7 linked regions of the Homo sapiens genome follow. The protein of the gene in region 3 purifies or fractionates together with the protein of the main gene of each other region. This does not show direct contact. Each region holds a gene or a part of one and is shown on either strand. Other genes may lie near its edges.

Region 1 (3,500 bases), on a different chromosome or scaffold from region 3:
AGCCCGAGAAGGCTGCTGTGGAAAACTCTCAAACTCGGAAGACGTTGCATCTTCCATTAGGATGAGGGGAAAGGCGCACACACAGCCCCATGCCATATTGTGAGGTGGGCGAAGGTGTGGATTGAAAACATTCATGAAACTAGCACTGACTTAGGCAGGGTGCAGAGTTTGTGACAGTGGGGGACCCTGCTCCGTCTCCTGTTAGTATCTGCGCATCAGACAGATGCGCATTCTGTAATATACGACCCACAGTACAGAGAAGCGGCAATTCCGATTAGGGGACTGACGAACAATTTATCATGAGGATAATCATTAACTGATACCTGTTTTCTGCATGAGACCCTAATCATTAACTGATACCTGTTTTCTGCATGGGACCCTTTGTGGGACAGAAAAACTTCTAGATCTTCTAGAATCCACCACTCACCCCTTTGTCCTTTAACACGGGCTGAAAGTGGTGATTTGGCTGTGTTCTTACTTATTTTTATTTTTTTTTTGAGACAGTCTCACTCTGTCACCCAGGCTAGAGTGCAGTGGCTTGATCTCAGCTCACTGCAACCTCTGCCTCTGGGTTTAAGTGATTTTCCTGCCTCAGCCTCCCAAGTAGCTGGGATTACAGGCATGCACCACCACACCTGGCTAATTTTTGTATTTTTAGTAGCGGTGCGGTTTCACCATGTTGGCCAGGCTGCTCATGAACTCCTGACCTCAAGTGATCCTCCCGCCTTGGCCTCCCAAAGTGCTGAGATTACAGGTGTGAGCCACCTCACCCAGCCTTTTTTTTTTTTTTTTTTTTTGAGGTAGGGCGTCTCTCTGTCACCCACGCTGGAGTGCAGTGGTGACATCGTGGCTCACTACAGCCTCAACCTCCTGGGCTCAAATGATCCTCCCACCTCAGCCTCCTGAGTAGCTGGGACTCCAGGTGTGCCCCACCATGCCTGGCTAATTTTTGTATTTTTTGTAGAGACAGGGTTTCACCATATTGCTCAGGCTGGTCCCAAGCTTCTGGGCTCAAACAGTCCTCCCACCTCAGTCTCCCAAAGTGCTGGGAGTATAGGCCTGAGCCACCAAGCCCAGCTGCTGATAGCATTTTATTATAAAATTGAACACATGTAGAACTTTTGTAAGACAATTACAGAGTCAGTGGAAACGTCCTCAAGTGAACAGTGTGTAACGACAGCCAGGCCATGTCTTCGAAGAAGCCTTGGCATCCAATTTGAAATGATGTGTAATGGTAGGCTTCTCCCTCCAGATCAGGCCAGTATTCTACATTCTTTTTTTTTTTTTTTTTTTCTTTTTTGTGATGGAGACTCACTCTGTTGCTAGACTGGAGTGCAATGGCGCCATCTCGGCTCACTGCAACCTCTGCCTCCTGGGTTCAAGTGATTCTCCTGCCTCAGCCTCCTGAGTAGCTGAGACTACAGGCGTGTGCCACCACGCCCAGCTAATTTTTGTATTTTTAGTAGAGATGGGGTTTCACCATGTTGGCCAGGATGGTCTTGATCTCTTAACCTTGTGATCCGCCCACCTTAGCCTCCCAAAATGCTAGGATTATAGGCGTGAGCCACCACGCCCGGCCTATCCTAAATTCTTTTAGCCTTTTTTTTTTTGGTAGAGACAGGGTTTCACTGTGTTGTCCAGGGTGATCTCGAACTCCTGAACTCAAGTGATCTGCCTGTCTTGGCCTCCCAAAGTGTTGGAACTACAGGCGTGAACCACCACACCTGGCCAATATCCTAAATTATAAGGAAATAATCTCCTTGCTTTTCTTCATAGTTGTATTTTTAAAATTTAATTTAATTTAATTTTTTTTTTTAAGAGACAGGGTCTTTGCTCTGTCACCCAGGCTCGTCTTGAACTCCTGGCCTCAAGCGATCTTCTCACCTTGGCCTCCCAAAGTGCTGATATTATAGCTGAATAAGAAATAATAAAATTTGAGCAAGTCATGTCAATTTCCATGTTACCTGAATGATTGATTTATTTTATTTTTTTGAGATTGGGTCTCACTCTGTGGCCCAGACAGGAGTGCAGTGGCACAGTCATAGTTCACTGCAGCCTTGAACCCCCGAGCTCAAGCGATTGTCCCTCCTCACCCTCCTAAGTAGCCGGGACTACAGGTGTGTACCACCATGGCTGGTTAATTTATTGTATTTTATTTTTTTTGTAGAGACGGGATCTCACTATGCAGCCCAGGCTGGTCGCCAACTCCTGGCCCTAAGCAATCCTCGCACCTGAGCCTCTCAAAGTACTGGGATTGCAGGCATGAGCCACCAGCCTTAGCTTAATGATGTTTTCAGATTTTTCAGTGTTTCCCCACCCTCATACCTGCCGTTTCTCAGTAATTCTTTGTAAGTCTCTGGCAGAGGCCGTCATTGCGCTTTGCTCCCTGTTGGGAAGGTACTCACGGCATTGAGTGTACTGCACTTTTTCATACTGTTGGTCACCTCTCACAAGGACATAAGCTCTGTGTGGCTCAGTTCCCCAGGCTGTCAGCCTCACCCCTCTTCCTGCGCACATGGGGGAGGCGGTGCCTTTGCTGAAGTGGGATGTGTGGAATGTTTTAGGACTGCGTGATCTTTGAGGAAGTGGCTGTGAACTTCACCCCAGAAGAGTGGGCATTGCTGGATCATGCTCAGAGGAGCCTCTACAGAGATGTGATGCTGGAGACCTGCAGGAACCTTGCCTCCTTGGGTAAGGGTGGTGTCATTCCCTCACTGCCTCCTTGGGTAAGGGTGGCGTCATTCCCTCACTGCCTCCTTGGGTAAGGGTGGCGTCATTCCCTCACTGCCTCCTTGGGTAAGGGTGGCGTCATTCCCTCACTGCCTCCTTGGGTAAGGGTGGCGTCATTCCCTCACTGCCTCCTTGGGTAAGGGTGGCGTCATTCCCTCACTGCCTCCTTGGGTAAGGATGGCGTCATTCCCTCACTGCCTCCTTGGGTAAGGGTGGCATCATTCCCTCACTGCGTCCTGGAGAGCAAAGAGACCTTGGTTTTCTTTTTTTTTTTTTTTATTTTTTTGAGACGGAGTCTTGCTCTCTCGCCCAAGCTGGAGTGCAGTGGCACGATCTCGGCTCACTGCAAGCTCCGCCTCCCGGGTTCATGCCATTCTCCTGCCTCAGCCTCCTGAATAGCTGGGACTACAGGTGCCCACCACCACGCCTGGCTAATTTTTTGTAGCTTTAGTAGAGATGGGGTTTCACCGTGTTAGCCAGGATGGTCTCGATCTCCTGACCTCGTGATCCGCCCGCCTTGGCCTCCCAAAGTGCTGGGATTACAGGCGTGAGCCACCGCGCCCGGCCTAAGATACCTTGTTTTTCTTTTTATTTGAGCTCAAAAATTGAAATATGTTGGAAAAGAGATAGACATGATCCCAACACCCATGGAACATGGGAGTCAAAATGCTTCTCCATGAAAACAAAGTTTTGTGTATGATTGATATTTAGGTTTTCTTGATCACCAGTCCTTGGCTGCCCACATTTTATAAGTCTGAGTAGAGTATTCT
Region 2 (3,500 bases), on a different chromosome or scaffold from region 3:
TAGCTGGGCGTGGTGTCAGGCACCTGTAGTCCCAGCTCTTCAGGAGGCTGAGGCAGGAGAATGGCGTGAACCCAGGAGGCAGAGCTTGCAGTGAGCCAAGATCGCACCACTTGCACTCCAGCCTGGGCGACAGAGCGAGACTCTGTCTCAAAAATAAATAAATAAATAAAATAAAAAGTTTAAGGAAAACAAAAACTATAAAAGCATTAGAGGAAAGCATCAAATGCTCATAAACCCTTTGGAGTAGGAATGGTCTAAGTATGACACCAAAGAAAGAGAGACCCTAAGGCAAAAGATTCATAGATTCGATTACATAAAAATGTAAAACTTTTATCTATCAAAAACATACACTGAAAGCAAAAAGATAGATGAGTGTCCGGAGAAAGGGAAAAAGTAGATGAAACACTGTTTTTATATGTTGAGATGTATAATGTATTTAGGAAAATAGGTACAAACAAGGTCACCTGAATTGTATTTTATATTGGCAAATATATCCTTGACATAATGTTTCATAATGTGTTATTTTTTTCACTTTTGATACAGGGAAATTTAAAATTTGTAGTAGATGGTGACACGCCTCTTATTGAGAATGGCAAAGTAGTATCTATCATAGCAGAATTGCTCTCTACTAAGACAGATATGGTTGAGAAAGCCCTTCTTTACCGGACTGTGGCCACAGGCCGTGACATCATTGACAAGCAGCACACAGAACAAGAGGCCAGCTACGGCAGAGACGCCTTTGCCAAGGTGAGAGTGTAACTGACCCTATGTCACCTGGTGTTGATCGCAGTTGCAAATTGAGTGAAATCCTGTGAGCATGTATTCAGACATTCTTGAAAGAGGGTTAAGGCTTTTAGAAACCATAATGATACTTTCTGGCCATACAAGCCTCGGTAAAACTCCCAGATGTAAGTAAGCATCACTGCCAAAAAAGGTTCTGAGAAGAGTGGAAGCTGACTGGGGGTGGCGCTCATGAGGGCTTCACGTGCTGCTTCTCTCACTCAATAATGCTTCGCCAGAGTCAACTGACTGAGCTCTGATCCATTTTTTTTAAGTTTTATTTATTTTTAATTGACAATAATTGTATATGTTTATGGGTACAGTGGGATATTTCAGGACATGTACACATTATGGAATGATCAGATCAGACTAATTAGCATACCTCTTACCTCACCTACTTACCATTTATTTGTGGTGAGAACATTTAAAATCCACTCTTAGCAATTTGAAACAATATTATTAGTATTATTATTAACAGTCACCACGCTTTGCAGTGGATCACCACAAATTATTCTTCCTGTCTAACTGAAACTTTACCCTTTGACTAACGTCTCACACTTTCTCCATCCACCCCGCTCCTCTAGCCTCTGGTAATCACCATTCTATTCTCTGCTTCTATGAGTTTGACTTTTTCAGATTGCATATAGGTGAGATCACACAATATTTGTCTTTTTGTGCCTGGCTTATTTCACTTAGCATAATGTCCTCCAGGGCTGTGTACTAAGCCTGCAGTGATAGTACCACAATTTATTTAACCACCTTACTCTTAAGTCACCCACTTTACTTCCCTTTTTTGCAACTGCAAACAATGCTGCACGTCTTTATACATCTATGCTTATATACTAGTGCTTTTGTTTCAGCTGGATGGATTCCCAGGAGTGAGCTTGCCAGGTCAAAGGGTATACTTATTTTATTTTTATTTTTTGAGACGGAGTCTTGCTCTGCCATCCAGGCTGGAGTGCAGTGGCACAATCTTGGCTCACTGCAACCTCCACCTCCCGGGTTCAAGTGATTCTCCTGTCTCAGCCTCCCAAGTAGCTGGGATTACAGGAGTGTGCCACCACGCCCAGCTAATTTTTGTATTTTTAGTAGAGACAAGGTTTCACCATGTTGACCAGGCTGGTCTCGGACTCCTGACCTCAAGCGATCTACCTGCCTTGGCCTCCCAAAGTGCTGGGATTACAGGCGTGAGCCACCGCACCTGCCATATATTTATTTTAAACTTTAAATTTACTGATTTTATGGCTGCATGGTAATATTTTATTGTTACTTTTATTTCATTACTAGTATATTTGAGCATCTTATCATATTTTTGTAGAGTATTTTAACATATTCTAAGAATTGCCTGGGTATATCTTTTGTGCATTTTTCTTTGGAGCTGTTATCTTTTTATTGTCAATTTCTAAGTGTTCTTAGCATATCATAAACTTTAACCCTTTGTTATCTGTGTGGCAAGCGTTGTATTTTCTCACGTCTAACTTTCGTTGTTGTTGTTTTGCTGGTTGATTAGTTTACTGTCTATTTCATTTTTTACTCTTGTAAGTCTTAGGCTTGGTTTTTAGTTTTGGGGGAATTTGAATTTTTCCTAAGTGCAATGGAGAGCAATAGGGAGGACTTTAAGGAGGGGCAATGACATCAAGTTTGCCTTTTTTTTTTTTTGAGATGGAGTCTCGCTTTGTTGCCCAAGCTGGAGTGCAGTGGCACAATCTCAGCTCACTGCAAGCTCTGCCTTCCGGGTTCATGCCATTCTCCTGCCTCAGCCTCCCAAGTAGCTGGAACTACAGGCGACCGCCACCACGCCCAGCTAATTTTTTATATTTTTAGTAGAGACAGGGTTTCACCATGTTAGCCAGGATGGTCTCCATCTCCTGACCTTGTGATCCACCCTCCTCGGCCTCCCAAAGTGCTGGGATTAGGTGTGAGCCACCGCACCCGGCCGTTTTTTTGTCTTTTTTTTTTTTTCTTTTTTTTTTGAGACGGTGTCTCTCTGTCACCCAGGCTGGAGTGCAATGGTATGATCTCAGCTCACTGCAACCTCCACCTCCCGGGTTCAAGCAATTCTCCTGCCTCAGCCTCCTGAGTAGCTAGGATTACAGGCACCCGCCACCATGCCTGGCTAATTTTTGTATTTTTAGTAGAGATGGGGTCTCATCATGTTGGCCAGGCTGGTCTCAAACTCCTGACCTCAGGTGATCTGCCCACCTCAGCTTCCCAGAGTGTTGGGATTACAGGCATGAGCCACTGCACCTGGCAAGTTTGCATTTTTAAAATGATCACTCTGGCCTTAGTATGGAGAATGTTATGGGGGCTAGAGTAAGAATGGAAGCAAAGAGGTCAATTAAGGGGATATTTTGTTAATCCAGGAAAGAGATGAGGGCAGCTTGAATCAGAAAAGTGAAAGTACAAATGGGGAGAGGAGGATGATTTGAAATGGACTGTGTTGAGAAAATAAAATCCATAGGACCTATTATGTGGAGAATGAGAGAAGCAAGAATAATACTTTAACATGGTCTGGCTCCAGCCCACCTCTCCCACCTCATTTTATACTATACCCAGCCCCCCTTTCTTCAGCCCAGCACATTAGTCTTCTCTCAGTCCTCACAGATTATCCTGATCCCTTTCTCCTTCCAGTCACAGGGCCTGTGCACATCTGTTCCCTCTGCTTGGACTGCTCTTCTCTCCTCTCTTGCTTGGCTACCTCTTACTCATCCTTCTGGTCT
Region 3 (3,500 bases):
TGCTAATACTGAATTCCCTGCCCACAAAATGTATTGGCCCTAATGTGAATTTCCTGCCTATGATATCAGTTACGTAAGTCAACCTCATGTGCATTAAGAAGGATAATATAGTACTCTCTGGCCAATGTTCCTTTCTAGAATTTCTTGGTTTCATAGATTCTTCATAAGGACAATTTACCTATGTTGATTCATTAATTAGTTTCCCTGGAGTTAAGGGGAGCAATGAGAATATTGGAGATATTGGTTCTTTAGTCATTAAAATGTTGTTTTTCTATTTATTTATTTGTTTGTTTGTTTATTTATGAGACGAAGTTTCACTCTCTTGCCCAGGCTGGAATGCAATGGTGTGGTCTCGGCTCCCTGCAACCTCCACCTTCCGGGTTCAAGCAATTCTCCTGCCTCAGCCTCCCAAGTAGCTGGGATTACAGGCACGTGCCACCACGCCCAGCTGATTTCTGTATTTTTAGTAGGGGTGGGGTTTCACCATGTTGACCAGGCTGGTCTCGAACTCCTGACCTCAGGTGATCCACCCGCCTCGGCCCCCCAAAGTGCTGGGATTACAGGTGTGAGCCACTGTGCCTGGCCAAAATGTTGTTTTCCAATGTTTTCATGACATACAATAAAATGTTTTGGTTGAGATATTTGTCCTTGTAATTTATGCACTAAATATGTATGCCTGAGAAACTTGGCTATATGACAGCTAGGATAGTAATGCCATGGTTAACTGTGAATACACAAAGTTCTTGGTATTTTCAATAAGCTGGTAAAATATATACCAAAATTCACTTTGAGAATATTTCTGGTAACAACATGCTAGTATACTCTGTATTTCAAAGTAGGTGACATGTGCCCGAGGCCTTTTTCTTTTCAGTGGAATGAGCTTTTACACATTCCTGATCAAGTCAAACTTTCTAATAATGCAAAATTCCACCTATAATCTTTACAAATGGCCAGCCAAATACTTTTTTGAAAATTTCCAAGGATTGGAAGCTAACTGCACTGTGACACAGCCTCTCCATGACTGGATAGCTGAACTGAAACGTGCTTTCCCATAATTCATTCTTGTTCTTGTAACAGAATAGCTAATTCCTCTTTCACACGCCTGTTCCAGATTTTTAAAAACTAATATGCATTTTCTTCCATCTTCTTTTTTCAAAATGATAGTTCTCAACTTCTCCTGTAAATAATTTTTAGGACCCCTTCTAAGTCTGTTCAACTTTCTCTGAACAAATTTGTCAATTACTTTCATAAAATACAGTCTCCGGCCGAGCACCAGATTCATGCCTGTAATCCCAACAGTTTGGGAGGCTGAGGCAGGAGGATCACTTGAGCCCAGGAGTTCAAAACCAGCCTGGGCAAGATGCCAAAACCCTATCTCTACCAAAAAAAAAAAAAAAAATTAGCCAGGTGTGGTGGCATACGCTTGTGGTCCCAGCTACTTCAGAGGCTGGGTGGGGAGGATCACTTGAGCCCAGGAGGCGGAGGTTGCAGTGAGCCATGGTTGTACCACTGCACTCCAGCCTGGGTGACAGAGCCAAACCCTGTTTCAAAAATAATAATAATACAGTCTCCATGTATGAACAAAATACTCAGAGTGTGGTCTGACTCGTGCAGAGTTCAGTGAGTCTTTAATCCTAACCTCCCTTGGTCTGATCAACTATCCTTCTATCAAATAATTACTCTGGATAAAAATTCAGTTCAATGCTAACACTTAACTTTAGGTTTGAAATACTTTTGAAAAGGGCATTTATGCAACATGTTTAAATCAACCTGAGGAACCTTAAACAGCTATTTTTTGTGACCTTAACTAATTTCTCTCTGGAATTCAAAAATGTCCAAATGCAAGACCAAGAAGTTGGACTTGGGCTGTTGGTGGTGTGATCCGAAACACTCCAGGTACTCTGAGGTATCTTTTTCATTTCCAGCCCTAGATCCTTGTTCTGCTTACATCAGCCTGAATGAGCCCTGGAGGAACACTGACCACCAGTTGGATGAGTCTCAAGGTCCTCCTCTATGTGACAACCATGTGAATGGGGAGTGGTACCACTTCACGGGCATGGCGGGAGATGCCATGCCTACCTTCTGCATACCAGAAAACCACTGTGGAACCCACGCACCTGTCTGGCTCAATGGCAGCCACCCCCTAGAAGGCGACGGCATTGTGCAACGCCAGGCTTGTGCCAGCTTCAATGGGAACTGCTGTCTCTGGAACACCACGGTGGAAGTCAAGGCTTGCCCTGGAGGCTACTATGTGTATCGTCTGACCAAGCCCAGCGTCTGCTTCCACGTCTACTGTGGTCGTGAGTACCTTCCCTGTGCTCTTTTTCTCCACCAACAAGGCCACAGGTGGAGTCCAAAAGTGCCAATTATAGGATATGCAGTTACAGTGGCAACTATATCTCAATCTGAACAACATTGATGTGGGGCTAAAGATACCTCTGATTTCTGAGATCTCTTCTTAGAACTTCTGAAAAATTCCTGAAGAAATAGAAGGGGAAAGGAGCTATGACTTTGATCAGTTCTTTTTAATTTTGTCTGAATTCCATTCAAACAAAACATTAGAAAATGAAACATTGGGCCAGGCGCAGTGGCTCACGCCTGTAATCCCAGCACTTTGGGAGGCTGAGGCAGGTGGATCACAAGATCAGGAGTTTAAGACCAGCCTGGCCAATATGGTGAAACCCTGTCTCTACTAGAAATACAAAAATTAGACAGGCGTGGTGGCAGGCAACTGTAACCCCAGCTACCCGGGAGGCTGAGGCAGGAGAATTGCTTGAACCCGGGAGGTGGACGTTGCGGTGAGGCGAAAATCGTGCCATTGCACTCCAGCCTGGGTGACAGAGTGAGACTCTGATTCAAAAAAAAAAAAAAAAGAAAAAAAGAAAATGAAACACTGATTTAGATTATCTAAATGGTGGATTTCCAACTTTTGAGTATGGAGAACCCCTTTTTAAGATAGATAGATGATAGATAGATAGATAGATAGATAGATAGATAGATAGATAGATAGATAGATAGATGATAGATAGATAATCAGACATCCATGTGATTGGATTGTGTTTAGTGTCCACTGATTTTTTTAAGTGATATACAATGGGAAGAAGCTACTTTATGTCAGTAATACTTTTAATTTCTGTGTTATTAATCCTGTCAATGTCTGTATTCATTTTTTAAATAGAACACTAGAAGAGTAGGACATAACACTTTCTTAGTCTATAGCTCTTGTATGGTGAGGTTTTGGATTTGCAGAAACTCTATGGCCACTCAAGGGCCTGTGGATCTGAAGTTGGGAATCATTGATCTAGATGACAGAAGATGCCCTAGATTGTTGTTTTCCATTGGTTTATATAAACCCTGAACAATGAGGATTCCCTTGATGGTGGCTGGAAACTCATCCCCCAGGCTGCACTTATGAGGCTCTCTCAAGAAGAGGGTCAGCTGGATGCAGTGGCTTATGCCTGTAGTGCCAGCTACTTGGGAGGCCAAGGTGAGAGGATTGC
Region 4 (3,500 bases), on a different chromosome or scaffold from region 3:
ATTTTTACCCTGTGATTACTTGTTCTTTACAAATGGAAAAAGCATACATTTACAGAGATGAAATCTAGTAGGTACCGTCTTACCCAAGTAATCAGATTTAACATATTAAATAGTGAGACAACCTCACAACCTCTGGATGGGATGCAACATGCAGTACCCAGCGCCATATACAATATTCTTGCTAAAAAATTTTCTAATGAACACCTAATAAACCCTTAAGGTCTAGCTTCCACTTACAGGAAATACAGATACAAGACAGAAAGATGAACAATACCTGGGGGCCCTGCCCTTAAGGAGCTAGATTTATATGACATTCTAGAAAAGGTAAAATATTAGTGACAGAAAACTGATTTGCAGCGGTCAGTAACCAGGGGTAGGAGGGCCTGACAGAACTTTTTATATGAAGTGATGGAAACAGTCTATACTTGACTGTGGTGATAGTTTCAGGACTCTTCAAATGAACATTTAAAGAGGATGAATTTTATTGTATATAAATTAAACCTCAATTAACCTAACCCCTCCTCAGAAAACCTAAATGTTTAATCTGGTTTTTGAGAAAAAAGTGAGACTATTCTGTTGATTTTTTAAACAAATATATTAAAGGACAAAAGTATTTTTAGATTGACATTTTTATTTTCCTTTTAAGCCCAGAGGCAAGATTTTTTTCTTCTCTTGAGTTAGGAAACTAATTCATTTCACATTTCTACCTACCAGTATACCAATAGAGCAGTTTTTGCCTTAACTTGTGTTTATACACTATACAGGATTCCACTGATATAACAGCTACATGAAGAAAATTACTACCTATGCACAAATACAGATGTACACATACAGATTCAATCCCGCATTACTTCCTGACATATTCCTACAATAAATAACGTCTCTTCATAGCTTAAAACCATCAAGGGTGATCAGTGTCTACTGAATAAAATCTAATTCTTACCTTGGTCTTCAAGATGCCCCATCCTAGCCAAAGCCTCCATTTCCAGAATGAATTCCACTACTGTCCTTCATGACACCTGCATTCTAGCTCTAACAGAATTCCTACTGTTACCTACATACAAACTGTGCTTTCCTGTCTCTGCTGATGCTTTTAAGCCAGCCTAGAATGCCATGCCTTTGTCATAGTAGGTTATACTTTCTTGGTCATTTCATTTAACACTTCTATAAGTATCTGCCTTTGTATCTTGCACTTCCAGATAGACAGTAAACTCAAGTCTAGAATTTGTGTCTTATAAATTTTTATAGGGCCAATGGTTAGTGCCAAGTAATAATCCCTGAGCAAGCTGAGCATGGTGGCTCACACCCATAATCCCAGCACTTTGGGAGGTGGAGGTGGGAGGATCACTTAAGCTCAGGAGTTCAAGACCAGCCTGGACAACATGGTGAGACCCTGTGTCTACAAAAAATAAAAAACAAGCCAGGCATGGTGGTGCATGCCTGTAGTCCCAGCTACTGGAGGAGACTGAGGCAGGAAGATCACTTGAGCCCAAGAGGTTGAGGCTGCAGTGAGCTATGTTCACACCATTGCACTCCAGCCTGCCTCAAAATAAGTAAAATAAAATAATCCCTGAACTTTTGCTAAAATGACTACTTAACCTCTTACAACCAAAATCCCATGCATCTGAAGGATGGACTCAAATACCATTTCTAACAAGAAAGAGATAAAGCAGCTGAAAAAACTAAGGGGGTTAAGTTTAGATTCCCCATTTTGGTCACAATCCCCTCTATTGTTTTCACTAACATTGTTCTTCTAGGACTTCAGGACCCAGATACTCTGACTCCTCTTTATCTTCCAGTCTATCAGTTCCCTCTTGGCATCACTTTCCTTTTTACCATATAGTCAAACACTGTCCCCAAAACCTTCCATTTCTTTTTTCTTTAACCCTAAATCAACTCAACTAGGTTTTCTCCATTTCTATTTTGTGTGGAAAAACATACAGTGCCATGCTGGTTGGAATTTTAAATGTGATTTTAATAATAACAACAGGTAACATTTCATGGGCACTTACCAGGTGCGGACATAATGTCCTTTTGATAACACTACAAAGTTACAAGTAAAGAAACAGACAAAGTCTAATTAACTTGCCCAATTTAACACAAGTAGAAAAAGGTAGACGTGAACTAAGGGAGTCTACCTCCAGTGCTCTAACATTTAGCCACTGTGCTATGGTGCCTCCCAAGTGCATGGTTATACCACCATTCACATTCAGAACAGATCATACATTCCTTCATACATTTCCTGTCCAACCCCTTTCCCCAACAGAATGTTCCGATTTTGATTGGCCTCATTCATCCAAAAATATATCTATTCAGTCACTGGATAAATGAAAGAGTTATTCCCACATTCTACACAGTCACTGAGACCAAAAATAAAAGAGTAAGACATGATCCTTGCCTTCTCTTCAAGTCCCCACACCCCTCATTCTCAGCAAAAACAAACAGACAAAAAACAGTAACTAATATTTCATAGCAGTCAACATGCCAAGCACATACATTGATTCATTTAATCTACAAAACAATTCATGTTAGTATTATGATCCCCATTCTACATATTTAAAAAACTGAGGCATAGAAGTTATGTAATATACTCAAAGTTACACAGCTAGCAAATGACAAAACCAGGATGCAAAACCAGTCTAGCTTCTGTGCCCAAGCTCTTAACCACTTTGTTAGACTGTCATCAAAGTCACTGAGTCCATTAGGTTTGAAACTCTCAACTTCTCAACTGTACACCTAAAGCAAAGAGTAATTAATTCATTTGACATTGACTGATAACTCACTCATCATGTTTTTGTTTCTTGAACACAAGCCTGTTCCCATTTCAAGGCCTTTATAAATTCCCAGAACATTCTTCCTCTACATCTGCCTCCTCATCATGGCAATTCAATTTAAATGCCAACTCTCAAAGAGACATTTCCTGACCATGTTACCTAAAATAGCCCCACTACAAATTGCCCTATCACATGAAATAGGTTTTATTGCCTTCACAGTTACTTATTACTAAGTGAAATTATGAGTTGTCTATTTCTCCCATTGGAGTGGATTTTCCAAGACGGCAGAGACTTTGTCTATCTTGCTCACCGCTACATCTTCAGCATCTGCAATACTGCCTGGCACAGAGCAGGCACTTGATGTTTACAGAATTCATGCCAAAAAATGTGCTAGACATTGGGATTATCAAAACGAATAGGATATGATGCCTATCCTCAATAAACTCCCAGTCTTTATATTTACAAGTACTCACCTCCACCCCTTCTATATTAACTGCTCCTTTTTTCAATGGCTAACCTCTCCACCTGTCACCTTAACTCTATCCCTGAGATCCCTTTGACCTCTTCCTGTCCCTGAGATCCCTTTGACCTTTTCCTATCAATTATCCCCTCTCTCACTTCTTCACTCTGTCTCTCCATTTAGCCTCCCATATTTGCATATCCCACCCAACCTCCTATACTTGAATATCCTTCCCTCAACTTTGAAATCCCCTTGAGTTACCAAAA
Region 5 (3,500 bases), on a different chromosome or scaffold from region 3:
CTGACTTCCTGTTTTTTTCTCAATCAACTTTACCATCAGTATCCTCAGTTCTCTTTGGAAACAGGCAGGATACAGATTAATAGCCAGCCCAGGCATGTAGTAGGCTTATAAGAGTTCACTTCTGTTCCTTATTTCTTGTGCCAAGCCCAGACATGACTCCAGCTCAGCCCGTCTGACATCAGGGGGCTTGTGGGCCGGAATTGGTTACTACCGTGTCCCCTGCAGTGATCCTGGGTGGTTTTGGACTCTTCTCAGGCTACCTGATGGTTTAATTTTCAAAATATCAAAAGCACACAATGCTTTTCCTAGTCTGCCCAGCCCTTGGATGGGCACAGCTTGCCCTGGGTCGAGGGCTGGCATTTCCCACCATTCCTTAGACATTCTCTGCTCTTGAACTCCTCCAACCAGTGGCTGGGGCAGTGCCTTTGGCCTGGAATGTCCTGCTGGCCACCTCGGTGAGCCCATCCAGTGCTTTGTGGCCTTGGCAAGGCAGCTTCTGTCCCTTCAGTATCCTCGTCTGCAAAATGGGGATGATTGTATTAACAGCCACGTAGCAGGTGGCTGCAAGGATTAGCGGTGATGTGATCAGTGGTTTCCTGGATGCTGGTACCGAATGCGTGCTCTGTGAGTATTTGAGTTGGAGAATAATTAAAACCTGTGATTATCATCACACTTCTAAAGTAGTGAAAGCGCCATTGAGGCAGTGCTTGGCAGTGGCACCCCTGGGAGCAGCCTGCCTCCTGTGCCCTGCATCTGGCCCGGCACACAGTAGGCGTTGAACGGTTGCTGTTGAGATGGTCCAGAACACAGCATGGCTTGGATCCTGGCTCCAACTCTTGGCAGCTCTGTGGCCCCGGGCAGGTTACTCACCCTCTCTGGGCTCCCTTATGTTCTCATATGGAAAATAAAGATGACAGTAGTAGTCACCTCATAGGATTGTCCTGCGTGTTAAATGGTCTCATACATGGAAAGCACTTTGGAGTGCCCAGCACCTGAAATGCTCAGTAAGTGCTGCTGTGGTTATGATGATCCCCCTCTCCCACCAATGGGCTTCCTGGAGTGATCATCTTCGATCAGGAATATCAAGACAGCAGGGCCCAGCAGTGAAGGATGGTGGCAGGAGGGGAGGTATGGAACTCAGATGTCCTCGGTCTCTTCTGTTTATTCCAATTAAGTACCCCAGATGCCAAACCTCTTCTGTTATTATTGTTGGTTTGTTTGTTTGTTTGTTTTGGAGACAGAGTCTCACTCTGTTGTCCAGGCTGGAGTACAGTGTCATGATCTCAGCTCACTACAGCCTCAACCTCCTGGGCTCAGTCATCCTCCCACCTCAGCCTCCCAAGTAGCTGGAACTACAGGCGCACATCACCATACCCAGCTAATTTTTGTATTTTTTTTTTTTCGTAGAGACGGGGTTTCACCATGTTGGCCAGGATGATCTCAACCTCCTGGGCTGAAGTGATCCTCCTGCCTCAGCCTCCCAAAGTGCTGGGATTATAGGCGTGAGCCACTGCGTCCGACCTTCTGTTAGGGTTTTGACCCTGCTCACCTCAGGGGATGGAAAAGACTTCTCCCTTTCTTGCAGCCTCCTTAATCCCCAAACCTTCCCTTTCCTGGCAGAGGTCATGGCATGGAGTGAAGAGTCCCTGGGCTGAGCTGCTGTGCCAGTGGACAGCTGAGTGACCTTGGGCAAGTCACTGCCCACCTTGGGGCGGCGGCTTTCCTCAGGTGGAAATGAGGTTCTAGCTGTATGGTGAGGAGGATGAACGTGTCCCATCAGCCCCACCTGACCATGGGCCTCTGAGATGTTCCAGGTGCTTCAGCCATACTGTAAGTCTCCTGAGTAAGGAACAGCTGGGGTCAAATCCTGCTCTGTCACTCATGAGCTGTGACCCTGAGCCAGGAGTGAGTAACTCTGAACCTCATCCGTAAACAGATCATTCTACGGTCGAGTGTCCCTCATCTGAAATGCTTCAGAACAGAGTGTTTCGTTTTTTGGGTTTTTGTTTTTTTGAGACGGAGTCTCGCTCTACCTCCCAGGCTGGAGTATAGTGGCCAGATCTTGGCTCACTGCAACCTTCACCTCCTGGGCTCAAGCCATCCTCCTACCTCAGCCTCCTAAGTAGCTGAGACTACAGGCACACGCCACCACGTCCAGCTAATTTTTGTACTTTTAGTAGAGATGGGGTTTTGCCATGTTGGCCAGGCTGGTCTAGAACTCCTGACCTCAAGTGATCCGCCCTCTTCCGCCTCCCAAAGCGCTGGGATTATAGGCATGAGCCACTGCGCCTGGCCGGAAGTGTTTTGTATATTGGACTTGCTTGGATTTTGGAGAATTTGCCGAACAAGTTGAGCATCCCTACTCCCAAGTTCCAAAGTCCAAAATGCTCCAATGAGCATTTCCTTTGAGCGTCACGTTGACACTCAAAAAGTTTCAGATTTTGGAACATTTCGGATTTTGGATTTTTGGATCAGGGATGCTCAACTTGTCATGCGTTCCTCATACGCTTATGTGGTGGATTCAGTGAGATGATCCTGTCTCACTTAGGTTAATGCTTGGCATGTGGTGGCAAGTGCTTGACAAATGTTGCCTGATGTTTGCTGGGCAGTGGCTGAAGCAGCTCATCCCTGGCATTGGGTCTTTCTTTCTTTTTTTTTTTTTTGAGACATCGTCTCACTCTGTTGCCCAGGCTGGAGTGCAGTGGCACGATTTTGGCTCACTCCAACCTCTTCTTCCCGGGTACAAGCAATTCCTCTTCCTCAGCCTCCCAAGTAGATGGGATTACAGGCATGTGCCACCATGTCCAGCTAATTTTTGTATTTTTAGTAGAGACGGGGTTTCACCATGTTGGCCAGGCTGGTCTCAAACTCCTGACCTCAAGTGATCCACCCTCCTCAGCCTCCCAAAGTGTTGGGATTACAGGTGTGAGCCACTTTGCCTGGCTGGGCCTTTCTTTCCCTCCAGGCCCCGCCCTGGGCCCTGCACTTTCTCTGCTCACCTAGTGTTGCCTTTATGTCGGTGATAGGGAGGATTAGCCTTATCAGGCTCCAGATAATGGCTGGAAAAGTCAGGAGGCTGCATGAAGCAAAGATAATTTCCTTTCTATTTCTCCTCTCCTTGTCCTTGGCCACCCCTCACCTTAGCCACTGGGGAACCCAAGGGGCCAGTGTCCAGCCCCAGGTGATAGCAGAAGAGCACTGGCCTTGGAGTCCAGTCCTGGGGGCCTGGTGTCAGCTCTGACACTCATGCATTGATTGTATTTCTCAGGTGCTTACTGTGGCCAGTCAGTGTGTTAGGCTTGGGGTGCCTGGTGGTGAATGGGATGGGTACGGGCTGGCTGTGTGGAGCCTGTGGCCTGGCGGGCACACAGATGGTCAGTCAGAGCTCTATAATAGGGTTTTCACTAGTGCTTCCAGAAAAGTCTAGAGCTATGAGAGGAATCCGATAGGAGCCCCATTCCGGCTATGTGAGGTTGGACCAGTGGAGGACATCTCAAGCA
Region 6 (3,500 bases), on a different chromosome or scaffold from region 3:
CACCCAGGGTCAGCGGTGACAGGTGCCTCTGCCCTCCTCCAAGCTCACACCCAGGTGCGCCCTCCCTTGCTGGGAGCCCTCTTCCTGGGAGCTCATCCTGGTGTGACTGCCCGGTCAGATGTGGATGCTGGGAAAGGCCTCTGTAGCTGACTGCACAGCTGTGAGCACCCTCCATGCCTCACAGCACCGACGTGGTGCCTGACCCGGTGGGTAACCAAGCTCTTCTCACAGAAGCCCCGAGACACACATCAGTGTCTCTCATGGGCTTCATGGCAAACGAGACAGAGGAGCTCGAGTGGCTTCCAGCAGCTGCACGGCGGTAACGCCGAGACTCGCCCCGCATGGCAGTGACGCCGAGACTCCCCCTGCATGGAAGTCATGCTGAGACTCAACCCTGCACGGCAGTAATGCTGAGACTCACTCTGCCCGTCTCTGCCCCAAACACAGAGCATGCTCCCGACAGCCCCCAGCAGGGTGTCCTGTGGTGCACAACATTCAGCATGTGAGCGTGGACGCAGGGAAGGAACAGAGCTGCAGCCCCCACAGGCCCTGAGCCAGCACAGGCTCTCATCGAGGAAGGCCCGCTGTCTTTCAGGGCAAGCCCCACCGAGGGCTGCCTGCTTTGAAGTGCAGAGCAGTGACTGTCTCTGGCCATTTGGCAGCATCCTTGCGGGCCCTGAGAGAAGCCAGTCAGGAAGCCACACAGCTGTTGGATGGGAGGGATGCTGGCCACAAGAAACACTACAAGGAGAGAGGCCCAGGACACGCCACTGTTTGCACGTGGTGGGCAGAAGGGAGCCTGGGAAAGTGCTGACTAAAGACAGGCCAGTCTGTGGGGGAGCAGAGGGCGGGGAGGAGGAAGGAAGAGGGTTCCTCCGTGCCCACCCCAGCCCCGGTGGCATCGCTGTCCTGGGAGCAGCCTCGTGCCCGCAACAGCTGCCGTGGAGAGGAAGTGGGATGTCTCACTGCAAATGCTTTGGGAAAAACAAGACAGTGTACTTTGTGATCATATAAAACAGCAAAATAAAATAGTCGTGGGCACAGGGCCAGTGATTCTGCAGTTAGAGCCGTGTGGACTCGGTCCCCATCTCCGGTGAGGGCGTCTCCTGCACACGGCACCCATGCTTCAGGTCGCACACACGTGCCTTGGACCCAAGTTCACCTTTGGAGGTGTCAATCCCCCCAAGAAGATGTGCTAACCTTGGAGTTTGGGGCCTAGGCTTCCATCAGAGTCTTCCCCACAGAAAGCGAACTGGGACTGGTCCCTCAATAAGCTACCGGCCTCTGTTCACAGCAGCACAGGATGAGGATGCCTGGGTCTTGCCAGCCACCACGTTCTATGATCCCAGGACAAACACGATTGCAAAGTTCATGTGTGTTCCCGGCTTACAAATGGGGAGGTTTATTTACGGCCTCTCCGGATCCACGGGGAGCTGCTCCATGGGACGCTGGACAGCTCAGTTCCCTTGAAAGGATGGCTGCACCATCGAGCATGACTCAACCCAAAGATCCAACGCGCAGGGGCCTGGCAGGGACAGCTGTGCTTGGGACGCCGGTGTGCCACTGCCGCTTCTGCGCCGGGAGTCACGCCCCGGCCTCTCCCACTGGGCTCCCAGCCTGAGCTCTGCCCAGCTGGTGTAAGGACAGTAAAGGCAACCAGATGCCCTGACTGCGACCACCACCAATAGTCGCCAAGAGTGCACGCAAGCAGAAATCACAGATGCCCTGGCAGCTGCCTGAGGGACAGGCTTCTCCTCCAGCTTTATCCAAGTTGAGCTGGTCTTCGGCCAGACGACCAAGCTCAGGCCCCAAATTCACCTGGGTTGCTCTGAGGACTGGTGAGACTTAAAGGTCACTTGGACTCCTCCAGTGGCCGGGACACATGTCTCTCTAGTGGACTGGTTGCCTTCCGTGTTGTGAGGACCGGCCAGGCCTGCAGGTTGGTGCCTTCCTCTGGCCTCACTGAGCAGCAACACTCAAGTTCAAACACAAAACCACCATTTATGGTGGAGCCATGGGCTCTGTAGCCCAGCATGACGCACCTGGCAGACCATGTTCACGAGACTAATGCTCCGAGCCACTGACACACACCCAGCTCCCCGCAGCCGCCCTGTGCTTTATGCGCCCACACCAGCACCACTCAGCCCTCACATGGGTGCCAGTATGCTCACAGTCGCCTGCACACAGAGGAGCACACAGTGGGGCCGGGGGTGCTGCCGCGTCCTGCTCTCCCCCAGTCCCAGCGAGCACAGGAGTTAATGACAGAGTGTGGGGCTCAAATGCCCAGGACACACTGTAGCCCTCCACAGCCTCTCAGGGCCTCAGTTTCCACATCTGTAAAATGGCTCAGTGACAGCTGTTACACAGTTGTCATGAGGATGTAACAACTTCACACATGGAGACCCCGAGAACAGCACTCTCAGGAGGACCCGTGCACGATTCATCTTTCAGACTAACAGACGAGCTGAGCGACGGACGAGCTAAGTGATGGATCTGAGAACGGGAGTGATCGGGAAGTGAACAGTTTCATCATCTGCTGCTGCTATTCAATTGTCAGGGTTGAAATAAACGGAAAGCCAGCCTGCCCGTAAACACTGTCATGTATTTCCCACAAGTGTAAAAAGGAAGTGAACAGTATCTTCCAGGTGTGGTGGAGACAGTCCAGACACACCCAAAGCCCACTGCGCCTCCCTGAGAGCTCCCGCGTCCGGGCTGCCCTCATTTGGAGTGGGCAGGAATGCCACACCGCAGCCCTCTCTGCTTCTGCAGGGACGGTCAACTTAGCAATTCAGAAAAGAAACAATGTTGACTCAGAGAGTGGCCTTACTGTACTGTGGACAGTTGGTCCTGGATGGGAGCCAGTCCCAGCCTGGCCGAACGTTTGGCCTTTTTATGCTGAGAATCCAGCCACTGCAGTGACCGGCCCAGGCTCTCTGAGGGCTGGCTGGGTCAAGCTGTGTGTTTTCCATGGAGCCCCAAGTTCCAAGGGGAGGTAGTCACAAAACAGGGTCTAGCAGGTTTGTGGACAGATGTGGAGAAAATGTATTTTCTTATCATAGGCACTAACACTGGAAGGAAAAAAATTTCACCTATAATTTGAAAACGGAGCCCCAGAAAATTAGTAGAACATTAACAAGGCCCAATGCACTTTACTATTTCTTTTGAATATTATACTTTTAATCAACACCCGTCAGTCAGAGCAGAGAGTGCCTCTGTCAGAGTGAAAGGCAAAACTGATACTGTTCTTAACTTATTCCACTTCCAGCTCCCCTTTAAAATTTATTTTAAAACTTTTAAAATGAACCTTTCACTTGGCCAGGGTCAAAATTTACAAGGCGTACACACCAGGTTTGCAGTGAAATCACTGGAATATAAAAACCATGGAAGAGTCCAGAGCATTTCCAACATCAAATACGAAACCCTTAAACAAGCAGCTTTGCATTGGAGAAACAGCTCTCAGTTTTAACCTTAGAAAACAGGGGAAAATGAAGCATGAGGAA
Region 7 (3,500 bases), on a different chromosome or scaffold from region 3:
TCTTATTGGAAGGAAGACAAGAATTCACCCTTGAATTTCCCAATTGTCTTCCTGCTGCCCGTCTGCATAGGAGAGACGGATGGATGTCTTGGGTGCTTTCAGGATCCATGAAGAGGAGTCGGCAGTGGTGTGCCCGGTGATTGATGTGATCGACTGGAACACCTTCGAATACCTGGGGAACTCCGGGGAGCCCCAGATCGGCGGTTTCGACTGGAGGCTGGTGTTCACGTGGCACACAGTTCCTGAGAGGGAGAGGATACGGATGCAATCCCCCGTCGATGTCATCAGGTCAGGAGCTGACTTCTGGGTGACTTGTTTTTTAAGCATGCCTCATTGAATCTGGCTGACCTGTGAGCGGAGGCCCTCGGGAGGAATGGTTAGCTGTCAGCTTAACTACCTCCCCTCTTCCCACTTTTTTGCCCAGAGTATTTGTTTATTTTTATTAAACGTGTCTGCTACACATGTCAATTTTATATCGGTATATTTTATTTATTTAATTTTTAAATTGTGGTAAAATATACATCATAGAGAATTTACCATTTTAACCATTTTGAAGTATGCAATTTTAGGCTGAGCATGGTGGCTCATGCCTATAATCCCAGTACTTTGGGAAGCCAAGGTGGGAGGATTGCTTGAGTCCAGGAGTTTGAGACCAGCCTGGGCAACATAGCAAGAACCTATCTCTACAAAAAAATAAAAATTAGCTGAGCATGCTAGTGTGTATCTGTAGGCCTAGCTAGCTGGAAGGCTGAGATAGGAGGATCGCTTGAGTCAAGGAGTTCAAGGCTTTAGTGAGCTATGATCACGCAATTGTACTGCAGCCGGGCGATAGAGTGACACCCTGTCTCTATAAAAAAATAAATAAATAAAACAAAGCATGCAATTTTAGTGGCATCGAGCACATTCACGGTATTGTGCAAACATGATCTTTACCTATTTCCAGGAATTTTTCATCATCCCACACAGAAAATATCCCCACTAAGCAATAACTTCCCATTCTCCCCTTCCCAGCCCCTGGGAACCTCTGTTCTTTCAGGCGCCCCATGTGAGTGGAATCATACAATATTTGTCCTTTTGTACTTGGCTTCTTTGACTTATCATCATGTTTTCAAGTTTCCTAGAGAACATCATTCCTTGTGATGGCTGAGTAATATTCCTTTGTACATATATGCTACATTTTGTTTATCCATTCTTCTGTTGGTGGACACTTGGGTTGTCCTTTGGTTATTGTTAAATAATGCTGCTATGAACATCGGTGTACTTTTATCTGCTTGAGTCCCTGTTTTCCATTCTTTTGGGTATACACCTAGGAGTGGGATTGCTGGTCATATGCTCATTCTTGAGGAAACATCTTTAGGCCCCTTTGACCTGGGGTGTGGGTGGATCCATGGCAGGTGGAGGAGTCTGCTCTGGCCAGTGGGTGAGTCAAGCTCTGAGTAGAATGGGCCCAAGGGAGGCTCAGCAGCTCTCATTCTGGAGGTTTTGAAGTGATAGCCTGGCTTCTTCCTCCCCTTCCAAGTTCAGAAGCAAGTGGGAGACAGATGTGGGAGTTGGGCAGGAGGAGGTCAGGACTTCAGCCTCACCGCTGGTGTGTTGAACCGGAAGTAGGCTCTGAGTTTTGCGTCCACATTTGGCAGTTGGGCTTCTGAATTCTTTCACCAGAGTCCTGACCTTAAGATGACCCGCTGCTGGCAGGAGTGGAGCAAGCAAGGAGAGTGTCCAGAGATAAGGCTGGAGAGATGGGCGGGGCCAAGGGAAGGGGTTTGGACTTGACCCTGAGCAGGTAGAAGCCACTGAAGGGATCGGAGCAGGAAGTGACCTGAGCATGTGCTGCGTGCCATGTGGTGAGGGCCCTGGGGGGACCGTTGTAGGCAGGGATACCATTAGGAGGCTCTGCAGTCTTCCAGGTCAGAAACAATGGTTCAGGAGATGGTGGGCACTGTGGATTCCAGAGATGTTAAGATGGAAGAATTGGAAGAAATTGAGTGGGAATTGGGGAAGGAAGGAATTAAGAATGGCACCCAGGCTTCTGTAGGAGCCCTTAGTGAGAACATCCTGCTCAATCCCTCACTGAATAGGTTTGGAAACTGAGACACAGAGCAGGAGGCTCTAATCTAGGCTACTTAGGCAGCCTGTCATGAATTCATGGGGGTCCATGAATTCTAATTGCCCCGTTACCCCACATGCTCAGGGCACCTATCCTCCCCATCCCATAATATCCCTGTGCCTCAGTTATCTCATCTGTATAATAGGTACCAGCATATCCACCCTGCTTATTTCCTAGATTTTTAGGATAAACACACGTGAAGGTGCTTTGTAGTCTAGAACCTTCCCTTCCACTGGGGATGTTGCTGTTGTCTTCTCAGTTGGCCCCATGCTTGGAGTCCAGGGCAGGCCCCGATGCTGCAGGATGTTAACATTTTCAGTGGTTGCGCTCTCAATGTTCTCTTTCCCTATTTTTTTTTTCAAGTTGGGGTCTCGCTTTGTCACCCAGGCTGGAGTGCAGTGGCATGATCTCAGCTCTCTGCAACCTCTGCCTCCTGGATTCAAGTGATTCTCCTGCCTCAGCCTCCTGAGTAGCTGGGATTATAGCTGTGGGCCACCACACCCAGCTAATTTTTGCATTTTTTTAGTAGAGACAGGTTTTCGCCATATTAACCAGGCTGGTCTTGAACTCCTGACCTCAGGAGATCTGCCCGCCTCAGCCTCCCAAAGTGCTGGGATTACAGGTATGAGCCACCGTGCCCAGCCCTTTCCCTATTTCTGAATTCATCCTTTTGCCTGTGCAACTCTGGGACGTGCTGACCTTACAGTGTTCTGCCGTGTAGGCTGGAAGCCGTGGGCCGTTTCTGGTTAGTGCTGGCTTCCAGATAAACCTGGTGGTGGGTGGCGGGAAACAAGGCTGGCTGAAAAAGCAGCCTGAGGCTGGCTAGCTGGGTCCTAGTGGAGGAAACCACTCAAGAGGACCTGGCCCTCGGGGCACTTTCAGATGCCAGAGTTGCCTTTAGGGCCTTCTGCATACTGGCCTCTGAGTGGCATCTGTGAGTGCCTGCCTTGTGAGATCACACCTCCTCAGATGACCATGGCCTGGAGCCTGCCTTCTTCTCGGAACGTGGTCTCTTGCTTCTCTCTTCTCCTTGCTCTCTATGCTTCTAAATGTCCCTGGATTTCTCCCACCCTTAAGCCTTTGCTCATGCTGGAGAACCATTCCATTTCCCTTCTTCTTCTTGGCTAACTGTCCTTTGTCCTGCAGACCTTGCTTCCTCCAGGGAACCTAGTCCTGCCCTTTTGCCCCTGCCCTCCTCAGTGTTCTCCCAGGGCCCTGGCTGACCTTAGTTAACATATTTAGCACACACATAGTACTTACCTGCTGAGAAGCCTGGGAGCCACCTCAAGGCAGGGACCGTAGGGTACATCTATGCCTCCAGGCCCAGCCTAGTGTGGGGCACAGAGGTGAAGGCGGGATATGCTTAGAGATGACAGATGAACAGATGAAAGGG

The links.
Region 1: the proteins of OIT3 (region 3) and ZNF77 purify together in Homo sapiens (affinity purification with mass spectrometry; one large-scale study listed by BioGRID and IntAct). This does not show direct contact.
Region 2: the proteins of OIT3 (region 3) and MYO1D purify together in Homo sapiens (affinity purification with mass spectrometry; one large-scale study listed by BioGRID and IntAct). This does not show direct contact.
Region 4: the proteins of OIT3 (region 3) and MYCBP2 purify together in Homo sapiens (affinity purification with mass spectrometry; one large-scale study listed by BioGRID and IntAct). This does not show direct contact.
Region 5: the proteins of OIT3 (region 3) and ALDH4A1 purify together in Homo sapiens (affinity purification with mass spectrometry; one large-scale study listed by BioGRID and IntAct). This does not show direct contact.
Region 6: the proteins of OIT3 (region 3) and GAS6 purify together in Homo sapiens (affinity purification with mass spectrometry; one large-scale study listed by BioGRID and IntAct). This does not show direct contact.
Region 7: the proteins of OIT3 (region 3) and GALNT12 purify together in Homo sapiens (affinity purification with mass spectrometry; one large-scale study listed by BioGRID and IntAct). This does not show direct contact.

The regions. Positions count from the first base shown.
Region 1 is NC_000019.10:2,938,472-2,941,971, reverse strand, and holds part of ZNF77 (zinc finger protein 77), read left to right. Parts: intron 1-2,564; coding exon 2,565-2,691; intron 2,692-3,500. UniProt on the Homo sapiens protein: May be involved in transcriptional regulation.
Region 2 is NC_000017.11:32,762,125-32,765,624, reverse strand, and holds part of MYO1D (unconventional myosin-Id), read left to right. Parts: intron 1-543; coding exon 544-747; intron 748-3,500. UniProt on the Homo sapiens protein: Unconventional myosin that functions as actin-based motor protein with ATPase activity. Plays a role in endosomal protein trafficking, and especially in the transfer of cargo proteins from early to recycling endosomes.
Region 3 is NC_000010.11:72,896,739-72,900,238, forward strand, and holds part of OIT3 (oncoprotein-induced transcript 3 protein precursor), read left to right. Parts: intron 1-1,925; coding exon 1,926-2,300; intron 2,301-3,500.
Region 4 is NC_000013.11:77,320,595-77,324,094, forward strand, and holds part of MYCBP2 (E3 ubiquitin-protein ligase MYCBP2), read right to left. Parts: intron 1-3,500. UniProt on the Homo sapiens protein: Atypical E3 ubiquitin-protein ligase which specifically mediates ubiquitination of threonine and serine residues on target proteins, instead of ubiquitinating lysine residues.
Region 5 is NC_000001.11:18,896,056-18,899,555, reverse strand, and holds part of ALDH4A1 (delta-1-pyrroline-5-carboxylate dehydrogenase, mitochondrial isoform a precursor), read left to right. Parts: intron 1-2,407; exon of another isoform or gene 2,408-2,485; intron 2,486-3,500. UniProt on the Homo sapiens protein: Irreversible conversion of delta-1-pyrroline-5-carboxylate (P5C), derived either from proline or ornithine, to glutamate. This is a necessary step in the pathway interconnecting the urea and tricarboxylic acid cycles.
Region 6 is NC_000013.11:113,854,077-113,857,576, forward strand, and holds part of GAS6 (growth arrest-specific protein 6 precursor), read right to left. Parts: intron 1-3,500. UniProt on the Homo sapiens protein: Ligand for tyrosine-protein kinase receptors AXL, TYRO3 and MER whose signaling is implicated in cell growth and survival, cell adhesion and cell migration.
Region 7 is NC_000009.12:98,831,670-98,835,169, forward strand, and holds part of GALNT12 (polypeptide N-acetylgalactosaminyltransferase 12), read left to right. Parts: intron 1-70; exon of another isoform or gene 71-79; coding exon of another isoform or gene 80-102; coding exon 103-288; intron 289-3,500. UniProt on the Homo sapiens protein: Catalyzes the initial reaction in O-linked oligosaccharide biosynthesis, the transfer of an N-acetyl-D-galactosamine residue to a serine or threonine residue on the protein receptor.